Homo sapiens: one gene and its partner. The protein of the gene in region 1 interacts with the protein of each later gene in a pairwise test. Each region holds a gene or a part of one and is shown on either strand. Other genes may lie near its edges.

Evidence for each region.
Region 2: the proteins of RAB26 (region 1) and GCH1 interact in a two-hybrid assay, tested with the Homo sapiens proteins (one study listed by BioGRID and IntAct).

What each region holds. Positions count from the first base shown.
Region 1 is NC_000016.10:2,151,618-2,154,954, forward strand, and holds the end of RAB26 (ras-related protein Rab-26), read left to right. Parts: intron 1-77; coding exon 78-144; intron 145-238; coding exon 239-291; intron 292-1,202; coding exon 1,203-1,268; intron 1,269-1,371; coding exon 1,372-1,428; intron 1,429-1,528; coding exon 1,529-1,605; intron 1,606-1,701; coding exon 1,702-1,804; 3' UTR 1,805-2,548; downstream 2,549-3,337. UniProt on the Homo sapiens protein: The small GTPases Rab are key regulators of intracellular membrane trafficking, from the formation of transport vesicles to their fusion with membranes.
Region 2 is NC_000014.9:54,864,552-54,871,847, forward strand, and holds part of GCH1 (GTP cyclohydrolase 1), read right to left. Parts: intron 886-7,296; coding exon 776-885; intron 1-775. UniProt on the Homo sapiens protein: Positively regulates nitric oxide synthesis in umbilical vein endothelial cells (HUVECs). May be involved in dopamine synthesis. May modify pain sensitivity and persistence.

The DNA of each region.
Region 1 (3,337 bases):
GACTGGCAGAGGACAAGTTGGGGGACAGGGGACACCAGGGAAGGGCTGGACAGCCTGACCAGTGCCTGTCGCTGCAGATGTGGGACACAGCTGGTCAGGAGCGGTTCCGCAGTGTTACCCATGCCTACTACCGGGATGCTCATGGTGAGCCCCTGGGTACCTGGGCTGGTTGGGGCGGGGGTCTGAGCACCTGAGGGTGCAGGTGATGGTGGATGTCCTCACTGCCCTCTGTCCCCAGCTCTGCTGCTGCTCTACGATGTCACCAACAAGGCCTCCTTTGACAACATCCAGGTCAGTGGCTTTCCTGGTGGGGTGAAAGGGCCCTGATAGGGCCTGACCCATCCCAACCTCCTTCTGGTAGATGGCATCAGGGTTCCAAAGGACCCCGCTGAGAGAGGGGAGGGGGAAATGACAGCCTTCTGGGCTGGAGGTGGCCCAAGTGGACCTGAGTGCCATTCCAGCTCCCTCAGCAGGAGGCTTTGTGTAAGGGACCTGTAAGGTGGGCTTCTGTATGTGGTACACGGGGGGTTATCACTTCTAAAGACAGGTATCCTGGCCAGGCATGGCGGCTCACCTGAGGTCAGGAGTTCGAGACCAGCCTGGCCAACATGAGGAAACCCCATCTCTACTAAAAATACAAAAATTAGCCGGGCGTTTTGGCACACACCTGTAATCCCAGCTACTCAGGAGACTGAGGTTGCAGTGAGCCAAGACTGTGCTACGGCACTCCAGCCTGGACAACAGAGCAAAACTGTCTCAAAAAAATAAAATGGGCTGGGCATGGTGGCTCACACCTGTAATCCCACCACCTTGGGAGGCTGAGGTGGGCGGATCACGAGGTCAGGAGTTGGAGACCAGCCTGATCAACATGGTGAAACCCCGTCTCTACTAAAGATACAAAAAATTAGCTGGGCGTGGTGGTGCGTAACTGTAATCCCAGTCACTTGGGAGGCTGAACCCTCCCAAGGTTCTCTGAACCCCAGGAGAATAGCTTGAACCCAGGAGATGGAGACTGCAGTGAGTCGAGATGGAGCCATTGCACTCCAGCCTGGGAAACAGGGCGAGACTCTTGTCTCAAAAAAAAAAAAAAAAAAAAAAAGATAAAGACAGGTGCCCTCTACAGTGTGACCTGGAGGGCCAAAGTTCTGGGGCATGGGGCAAGCCATGCAGGGAGCCCCAGCCTGGTCTGCTGCCTCCCACAGGCCTGGCTGACCGAGATCCACGAGTACGCCCAGCACGACGTGGCGCTCATGCTGCTGGGGAACAAGGTGGGAGGCCCGGCTGTCCTCACCTGGGCCACAGGGCAGGGCAGGTGAGGGGGCAGGGGCCAACCATGGGCCAGCTTTCACCAAGACCCTGTGCCTGGGCCAGGTGGACTCTGCCCATGAGCGTGTGGTGAAGAGGGAGGACGGGGAGAAGCTGGCCAAGGTGAGTCAGGGCAGGGGGGTGGTGAGGGGGTGCCCCTGGAGGCTGCGAGCCTAGGCTGTCCCCGCCAGGCCACCACCTGGCTGGCAGCAGCTGTTTACAGGAGTATGGACTGCCCTTCATGGAGACCAGCGCCAAGACGGGCCTCAACGTGGACTTGGCCTTCACAGCCATAGCAAAGTAAGTCCTGCCAGTCACCAGGACTCCCCCAGCCCAGGGCCTGAATCCTCATTAGAGTCCAGGCCATCGTGTCCCCTTGTCACCCCCACTCCGCAGGGAGTTGAAGCAGCGCTCCATGAAGGCTCCCAGCGAGCCGCGCTTCCGGCTGCATGATTACGTTAAGAGGGAGGGTCGAGGGGCCTCCTGCTGCCGCCCTTGAACCTGGCTGAGCTCAGTCCTCTGGAGGAAGCCGTCCAGTCCCTAGAAGGCTGGACAGAGGGTCTCCAGGCCCTTCTGACTTTGTTGCCCAGTGGCCAACGCCCGAGTGTCTGTTTTCAGGAGCCCCAGGTCAAGCCTTGTCCCTTCCTCCTCCCAGCAACAGTCCCAACAAGCAGGCTTCTGAGAGCCCGTGGCCGCACACTGGCCGCCACGGAAAAGCAGTCTTCTGCACGGGACGGGGAGCGGCAAGTGGACAGACTTTGCCACGGTGCTCTGCTGCCCCCTCCTGGGCACGTCCAGGTGAGGGAGGGCTGGGGCTGGCACCACGCACAGTGCCTAACCCTAGAAAAGCCATGTCTTCAGCCGCACATGCTCAGGCAGCTAAGGGAGGACGCCTGCCCACGCCTGGGACAGAAGGCTTCACTGCTAATCACATCGTGCATCTGTGTGTCCTGGGAGCTGCCTGCTCCCGGCCCACCCTCTAGGAGGCTCTGGCTCAAACAGCAATAGGGTCTTCCTCACTGACCTTGGAGGATGCCTGTGGCCTTGTGATAAAATGTGGGAAATCACAGAAAACACCAGAAACAACAACTGCCAGCCCGGCCTGGCCACAGGTGAGGTCTGTGATTTCCGAGCACGCTCCACCTTGCACTCAACTTGGCCTTTTGATTGCACAAGCCTTTGTTTTCAGTCCTAGTGAATAAAGTTGTGTTTTCTGGAGCGTCTGTCTCATCTGTTGAAAAAAATCCACTTCTAGAGCAGGATGCTGGAGTTTGAGAGACTCAGCAAGGCCCAGAACCCTCAGCAGGTGTGTGGCTACCATTCCTCCATGGCCCATGGCTGCCTCCCTAAGGAGGCACATGGGAACCCTAGGTGGTGTCAACTTCCCTCCACAAATCTCAAAAGCCTTTTTGGACTCACCCTGGGGCAAAAGGCATGAAAAACAGTATTTGACTGGGCGTGGTGGCTCACACCTGTGATCCCAGCACTTTGGGAGGCTGAGGTGGGCAGATCACCTGAGGTCAGGAGTTTGAGACCAGCCTAACACGGAGAAACCCCGTCTCTACTAAAAATACAAAATTAGCCGGGCGTGGTGGTGGGCGCCTGTAATTCCAGCCATTTGGGAGGCTCAGGCAGGAAAATCGCTTGAGGTGGAGGTTGTGCCATCGCACTCCCGCCTGGGAAACGAGCAAAACTCCGTCTCAAAAAAAAAAAAAAAAAATCACGGGCAGAAATGGAGAAGGCAATCCCAAGAGATGAAAAGTCACTGGTAACGAGCTTCCGTTTTCATGTCTGTACCCTTTTCCAAGATTGCCTGTGGATCAGCCAGACCTCTGGGGTGCCAGAATAGGAAAATAAAGACACTTGAGAGAAAACCGAATCAACTCACTACCTTTCTTTATTGCTAAGCACTTCAATAGACACAGCGCCCACCTTACCGCTAGGCCCTCCGGATTGAGGTTTACTTAGGTTCAAAACTTGCAGCCGGCTCGCGACGAAACCTGAAAGTCAGCGCCAAAATACAGACATTAAG
Region 2 (7,296 bases), on another chromosome or scaffold:
AATCCAATGGAGAGTCACACATTTGTATTTACACTGCATTTGGTTATACCTCTTAAGTCCCTTTTGTCCTAAAATAGTGCTCCCACCCATAATATTCTCTATTGAAAAGAGAATAGGCCAGCTGTTCAGCAGAGTGCCCCACCTTCTGGATTTGTTCCATTCAGCCTCTGGATTTCCTGTAAACTAGATTAGATCTAAAGTTTCATAAGACTAGGACTAAACATTTCTGACAAAAGAAATTCACAGAGGTGCTGAGGAATCTAATGCATTAGATTCACTTTTCCTAATATAGAAAGGAATGGAAACAAATCCACAAATACCATAACCTCTGTCACAAGAAATTCTGCAATTATTGTTGCTCATGACATGCCATACATACATATCTATCTTGGATCAAACATTATTCAAGTTAAAATAAAGGGCATCTCTAGATTGGGATGCTAATAATAAATAAATAAAGGTTAAAGGTTTTCAGAGCCTGTAGTAGCTACAAAAAAAAAAAAAGAGAGAGAGAGATGCTACTTAAACCTCATTATTTTAACCTATGAACCTGGTATTTAACATGAAAGGCTTATCCTGAGAGCCTTCTGCTACTTTGGTTTTGTTTTTTAAGTTTCAAGTTATTAGTCAGGTTAATAAAGAATAACCATATATGTATAATTGTAAATACCTGAGATATCAGCAATTGGCAGCTAAAAATTTTAAATATAATTATTCTAATTGAAAAACTTTCACTATGTTTTAAATTGCTGGGAAACAACAAAGAGAACCTTACCTTTCCAACAAATGGAACCAAGTGATGCTCACACATGGAAAACATGTCTATGTCCTTCACAATCACCATCTCATCATGATCTTCATCAAATATAGCATCGTTTAGGACATCTGAAATCAGAGGCTTGCTTTAGTAACATGTCCAATTTTATAGAAAGGTAGAATTATGGATAAACATGAATAGACAGTCAACATAAACGAACGTTAATCCTCCCTAAAATATTAAGGGAATACAAATTAAAACTAGATATTTTTCCTTATCAAAGTAGCAAAGTCCTTTTCTGTAAGTAACATTTAAAAATCCTTGATACAGTGTTACATGAAAAATGCAGGATTATGAACATATTTGCAGTATGGAAGAGGAAGGAGAACGGAGGGAGGAAAGGAAAAATTATACCAAAATAAAACAGTGGCTATTTCTGGCAGTAGAAATGGGCCACTTTCACTTTCTTCCTTACATTTTCTTCTACTTTATATTTTGTCTATAATCAATATGTAGAAAACCATATCTGAGAAAAAGACTAATCCTTAGCCCTCTGACTTCTGAGGCCAGATCCAGACACCTGTAAACCTGACCTCTATTATCAATTCCCCAAGTAATTTTCTACATTTGTAAAGTGTTCTATATATTGTAGGCTAGCATCAGACTTATTCTAAACAGTTGCCTTCCTAAGGAAATAAATCCTACAGTTTGTGTGTATATGCCTCTCTGGGAAGGCTTTGGAAGATAAGCAGTGTCTTGTTTAAGCTGTGGACCCTGGCACTTCCAGCCAGACATACAATAGACATTAAAAAAAAAAAAAGCTTTATTTTTAAAAATTGCACTGACTTATCCTCAACTATGCTATGTGCAAAAGAAAAGATTAATCAGATGATGCCTGAGAGCACTCTGAGCTTCCTAACATTCGGTGACTGCAAGAACATCCTGTCCTGGATGCTGAAGAGGGATAGAGGGAAACAAGCCACATTCCCCACCAATCATAATATAGCCAAGCTATTGATAATAGGCAGGTACCCAAACAACATTGTAGATAAATGCCATATGACATGGAAACTTCTTCAGCTATATTGTCAAATGAGAAAAGAAGCTACAAAGAAATACAGTAGGATTTCATTTTCGGAAAATAAATATAGACATAGAAAAAAACTGTACTGATACCTAGACAGCTTGGCAGACTAGATATAATAAGACACGTAGCTGAGTAATTTCAAGGATTTGGGGGATATGCAATATACATAATAGAATTAGACAGAGAAGGGAAGGGATGTATTAGAGCTTTGCACCTGCAGCTCTTTCCCCTCAGAAAGGCAGGCGGCTGAGTGAGTCACAGGAAGATGGACAAATGTCCACCCACACTGCCTGACCTTCAGTGGCTCCACTGCTACTAGAATAGGGGGCTCACAGAGACCAAGTCATCACGTAAACCACAGTTATTACCCCAAGTCAGGCTATTCAGAGATACATTTGACTGTGTCATAGAAAAGTCATTAGTGTGGTCAAGAAAGGCGAACATGGCAGGGTTAGACACATACAGACAAACAGAGACACCCCTGGTAGAAGTGGCTGATAACATCCCAGGAGAAAAAGGCGCAGTGTCACTCACTGAGTATTTCTTCTACCACAGCACTTTTCTATGCTGAATATTCTGCCCTACCTTCAGTCTTATTTCTGAAAAGAAGACCAAAAATAGATCCTTAATGTTTCCAAAAGTTTCTTGGATTTCTCCCCAAGATTTTAATATGGTATGATTGCCACATATAGCTTACTAAAATCTTTAGTCACACAAGATATATTCCTGGAAGGAAAAACAAACCAAAAAAATGTCTTAAAGAAAAAACAAGAGAGAAGCATTAAATATAGGAAGCATTTGTTTTCTCTGGCAAAGAATGAGAGCGTCCCCATCCTAAGCTCTGACGACAACCATATGGCCCATGTTAAAGTCAGCCCTTCAACTCAGGCGAAGTGAAGAGCTGGCTCCAGGCTGGGTGCAGTGGCTCATGCCTGTAATCCCAGCACTCTGGGAGGCAGAGGTAGGTGGATCACCTGAGGTCAGGTGTTTGAGACCAGCCTGGCCAACATGGTCAAACCCTGTCTCTACTGAAAATACAAAAATAAGCCAGGCGTGGTGGTGCATGCCTGTAGTCCCAGCTACTCGGGGGGCTGAGACAGGAGAATTGCTTGAACCCGGGATGTGGAGGCTGCAGTGAGCCGAGATCATGTCACTGTACTCTAGCCTGGGCAAGAGAGAACAAGACTCCGTCTCAAAAAAAAAAAAAAAAAAAAAAAAAGATCTGGCTCCATCACTTACTAGTTATTAGGCCTTGGGCAAGGTACTCTGTACCTCAGTCTTCTCGGCTATAAAATGAGCATAAAGTGCCTGCTTCACAGGGTGTCATGAGGATTAAATGGGCACATGTGTTTAGAACTATGCAGGCGGAGCAAGTGCTAGTTATTGTTATTACTATTATTATTACAATTAAGATTGAGGGAGCTGCAAAGCTATGTATCTCCCATGCATATTGAGGTACATCAAAATTTAAAAAGCAATAATTTGCCTTAACAGAGTACAGAAAAGGAAAAATAGTAACTTGGTGGAGAAACCTGGCAGAGGCTACCTTAACCAAATGATTAAGGTTAACTTTGCCAGTAACAGGACATACTGACATCAGGTAGCTCCTGATAGGACACCATGAGAAGGGCACATCACCTCTGCGGTATTCTTCCCAAAAATCCATAACTGCAGCCTAATCATCAGACAAATCTAGGGACACAAAATATCTAAACAAGTACTCTTAGAAAGCATCAGGCCAGGCACAGTGGCTCACACCTGTAATCCCAGCACTTTGGTAGGGCAAGGTGGGAGGATCACTTGAGCCCAGCATTCTGAGACCAGCCTAGGTAACACTGCAATATCCCATCTCCACAAAAAATAAGAAAAAAATTAGCCAGGCACGGCAGCACACTCCTATAGTCATAGCTATTCAGGAGGCTAAGGCAGGAGGATCACTTAAGCCCAGCAGTTCAATGCTACAATGAGCTATGATTGCACCACTCCACTCCAAATAGAGTGACAGGGCAAGATCCTGTCTCTATTTTTTAAGTGTTTAAAAATTAAAAAAAAAAATTAAGGCATCAAAGTCATGAAAGACACAGAAAGACTAAGGAATTGTCAGATTGTAGGAGACTAGAGAAATGACAATGAAAATCTGAATAAAGTCTGTAGTTTAAATAATAGTATTGTACCAATATTACTTTTTAAAATAAAGTATATTTTTATTATTTTTTCTTTTTTTGAGACAGAGTCTTGCTCTGTCGCCCAGGCTGGAGTGCAGTGGCATGATCTCGGCTCACTGCAAGCTCTGCCTCCCAGGTTCACACCATTCTCCTGCCTCAGCCTCCTAAGTAGCTGGGACTACAGGCGTCTGCCACCACCCCAGCTAATTTTTTGTATTTTTAGTAGAGATGGGGTTTCACCATGCCAGCCAGGATGGTCTCGATCTCCTGACCTCGTGATCCACCCGCCTCAGCCTCCCAAAGTGCTGGGATTATGGGCGTGAGCCACCGTACCTGGCCTTATTATTATTATTATTATTTTAGAGATGGGATCTTGATATATTGCTCAAGCTAGTCTTAAACTCCACGGCTCAAGCCATCCTCCCACCTTGGTCTCCCAAGTAGCTGGGACTACAGGCATGCACCACCACCTGGCTCCAATATTAATTTCTTTTTTGAGATGAAGTCTCACTCTGTCACCCAGGCTGGAGTGCAATGGCGTGGTCTCGGCTCACTGCAACCTTCGCCTCCCGGGTTCAAGCGATTCTCCTGCCTCAGCCTCCCGAGTAGCTGGGACTACAGGCACGTGCCACCAAACTCAGCTAATTTTTTTGTATTTTTAGTAGAGACGGGGTTTCACTATGTTGGCCAGGCTGGTCTCGAACTCCTGACCTCGTGATCTGCCAGCCTTGGCCCCCCAAAGTGCTGAGATTACAGGCGTGAGCCACCATGCCCAGCCAGTATTAATTTCTTAAATGTTGATAATTGTACCATGGCCATGTGAGATGTTAAACATCAGGAGAAACTGGGGAAAGGGTATATGAAAACTCTCTCTACTATCTTTATAATTATTCTGTAAGTCAGTCTAAAATTGTTTCAAAATAAAAACTTTCTTTTTGAAACGAAGTTTTGCCCTTGTTGCCCAGGCTGGAGTGCAATGGCACAATCTCAGCTCACTGCAACCTCTGCCTCCCAGGTTCAAGTAATTCTCCTGCCTCAGCCTCCTGAGTAGCTGGGATTATAGACACATACCACCACGCCCAGCTAATTTTGTATTTTTAGTAGGGATCGGGTTTCTCCATGTTGGTCAGACTGGTCTGGAACTCCCGACCTCAGGTGACCCACCTGCCTCAGCCTCCCAAAGTGCTGGGATTACAGGCGTGAGCCACCGTGCCTGGCCCAATAAAAAGTTTTCTAAAAAGCAAAAGGACAATGTCCCTCAACTGGAACATATAAACAATGGAGTACACTCAGCAAGAAGATGGAATGAATTACTGATACATGTAATAACATGGTTTGAGTCTCCAAAGTACACTACAATGTGAAAGAAGACATCCATACACAGAAGAGACTACCTATGTTCTAGAAAAGGCAAAACTATAGTGATAGAAGGCAGACAGGTGGTTTACCAGGGCCAGAGAGGTAGGAGAGAGAACTTCACTGCAAAAGGAAAGAAAGAAACTTTTTTGGGTGATGGAAATAGTTCCTATCTTCACTGTATGGGTGGCTATATAACTGCATACGTTTGTTAAAATTCACATTGTACATGTAAAGTAGGTAAATTTTACATAAGATAAGTGACACCTTAATAAAGCTAACTTCAAACATAATTTTTAGGCTGGGTGCGGTGGCTCACATCTGTAATTCTAGCACTTTGGGAGGCGAAGGTGAGAACATTGCTAGAGGCCAAGAGTTCAAGACCAGACTGCCCAACCTAGCCAGACTCTGTTTTTACCAAAAAAAAAAAAAAAAAAAAAAAAAGGGTGGGGGTGGAGCCAAGATGGCCGAATAGGGACAGCTCCAGTCTACAGCTCCCAGTGTGAGCAACGCATAAGACGGGTGATTTCTGCATTTCTAACTGAGGTATCGGGTTCATCTCACTGGGGAGTGTCGGACAGTGGGTGCAGGACAGGGGGTGCAGCGCACCCAGTGAGCCAAAGCAGGGCGAGGCGTCACCTCACCCGGGAAGCACAAGGGGTCAGGGAATTCCCTTTCCTAGTCAAAGAAAGCGGTGACAGATGGCACCTGGAAAATCAGGTCACTCCCACCCTAATACTGCACTTTTCCAACGATCTTAGCAAACGGCACACCAGGAGATAATATCCTGCGCTTGGCTCGGAGGGTCCTACTCCCACAGATCCTCGCTCATTGCTAGCACAGCAGTCTGAGATCAAACTGCAAGGCGGCAGCGAGGCTGGGGGAGGGGCACCCGCCATTGCCGAGGCTTGAGTAGGTAAACAAAGCGGCTGGGAAGCTTGAACTGGGTGGAGCCCACCGCAGCTCAAGGAGCCCTGCCTGCCTCCGTAGACTCCACCTCTGGGGGCACGGCATAGCCGAACAAAAGGCAGCAGAAACTTCTGCAGACTTAAAAGTCCCTGTCTGACAGCTTGGAAGACAGCAGTGGTTCTCCCAGCATGCAGCCTGAGATCTGAGAATGGACAGACTGCCTCCTAAAGTGGGTCCCTGACCCCCGAGTAGCCTAACTGGGAGGCACCCCCAAGGAGGGGCAGACTGACACCTCACACAGCCGGGTACTCCTCTGAGACAAAACTTCCAGAGGAACGATCAGGCAGCAACATTTGCTGTTCACCAATATCCACTGTTCTGCAGCCTCCGCTGCTAATACCCAGGCAAACAGGGTCTGGAGTGGACCTCCAGCAAACTCCAACAGACCGGCAGCTGAGGGTCCTGACTGTTAGAAGGAAAACTAACAAACAAAAAAGACATCCACACCAAAATCCCATCTGTACATCACCATCATCAAAGACCAAAGGTAGATAAAACCACAAAGACAGGGAAAAAACAGAGCAGAAAAACTGGAAACTCTAAACATCAGAGTGCATCTCCTCCTCCAAAGGAACGCAGCTCCTCACCAGCAACGGAACAAAGCCAGACGGAGAATGACTTTGACGAATTGAGAGAAAAAGGCTTCAGACGAACAAACTACTCCAAGCTAAAGGAGGAATTTCGAACCCATGGCAAAGAAGTTAAAAACCTTTAAAAAAATTAGACGAATGGCTAACTAGAATAACCAATGCAGAGAAGTCCTTAAAGGACCTGATGGAGCTGAAAACCATGGCACGAGAACTACGTGATGAATGCACAAGCCTCAGTAGCTGATTCGATCAACTGGAAGAAAGGGTATCAGTGATGGAAGATCAAATGAATGAAATGAAGCAAGAAGAGAAGTTTAGAGAAAAAAGAATAAAAAGAAATGAACAAAGCCTCCAAGAAATATGGGACTATGT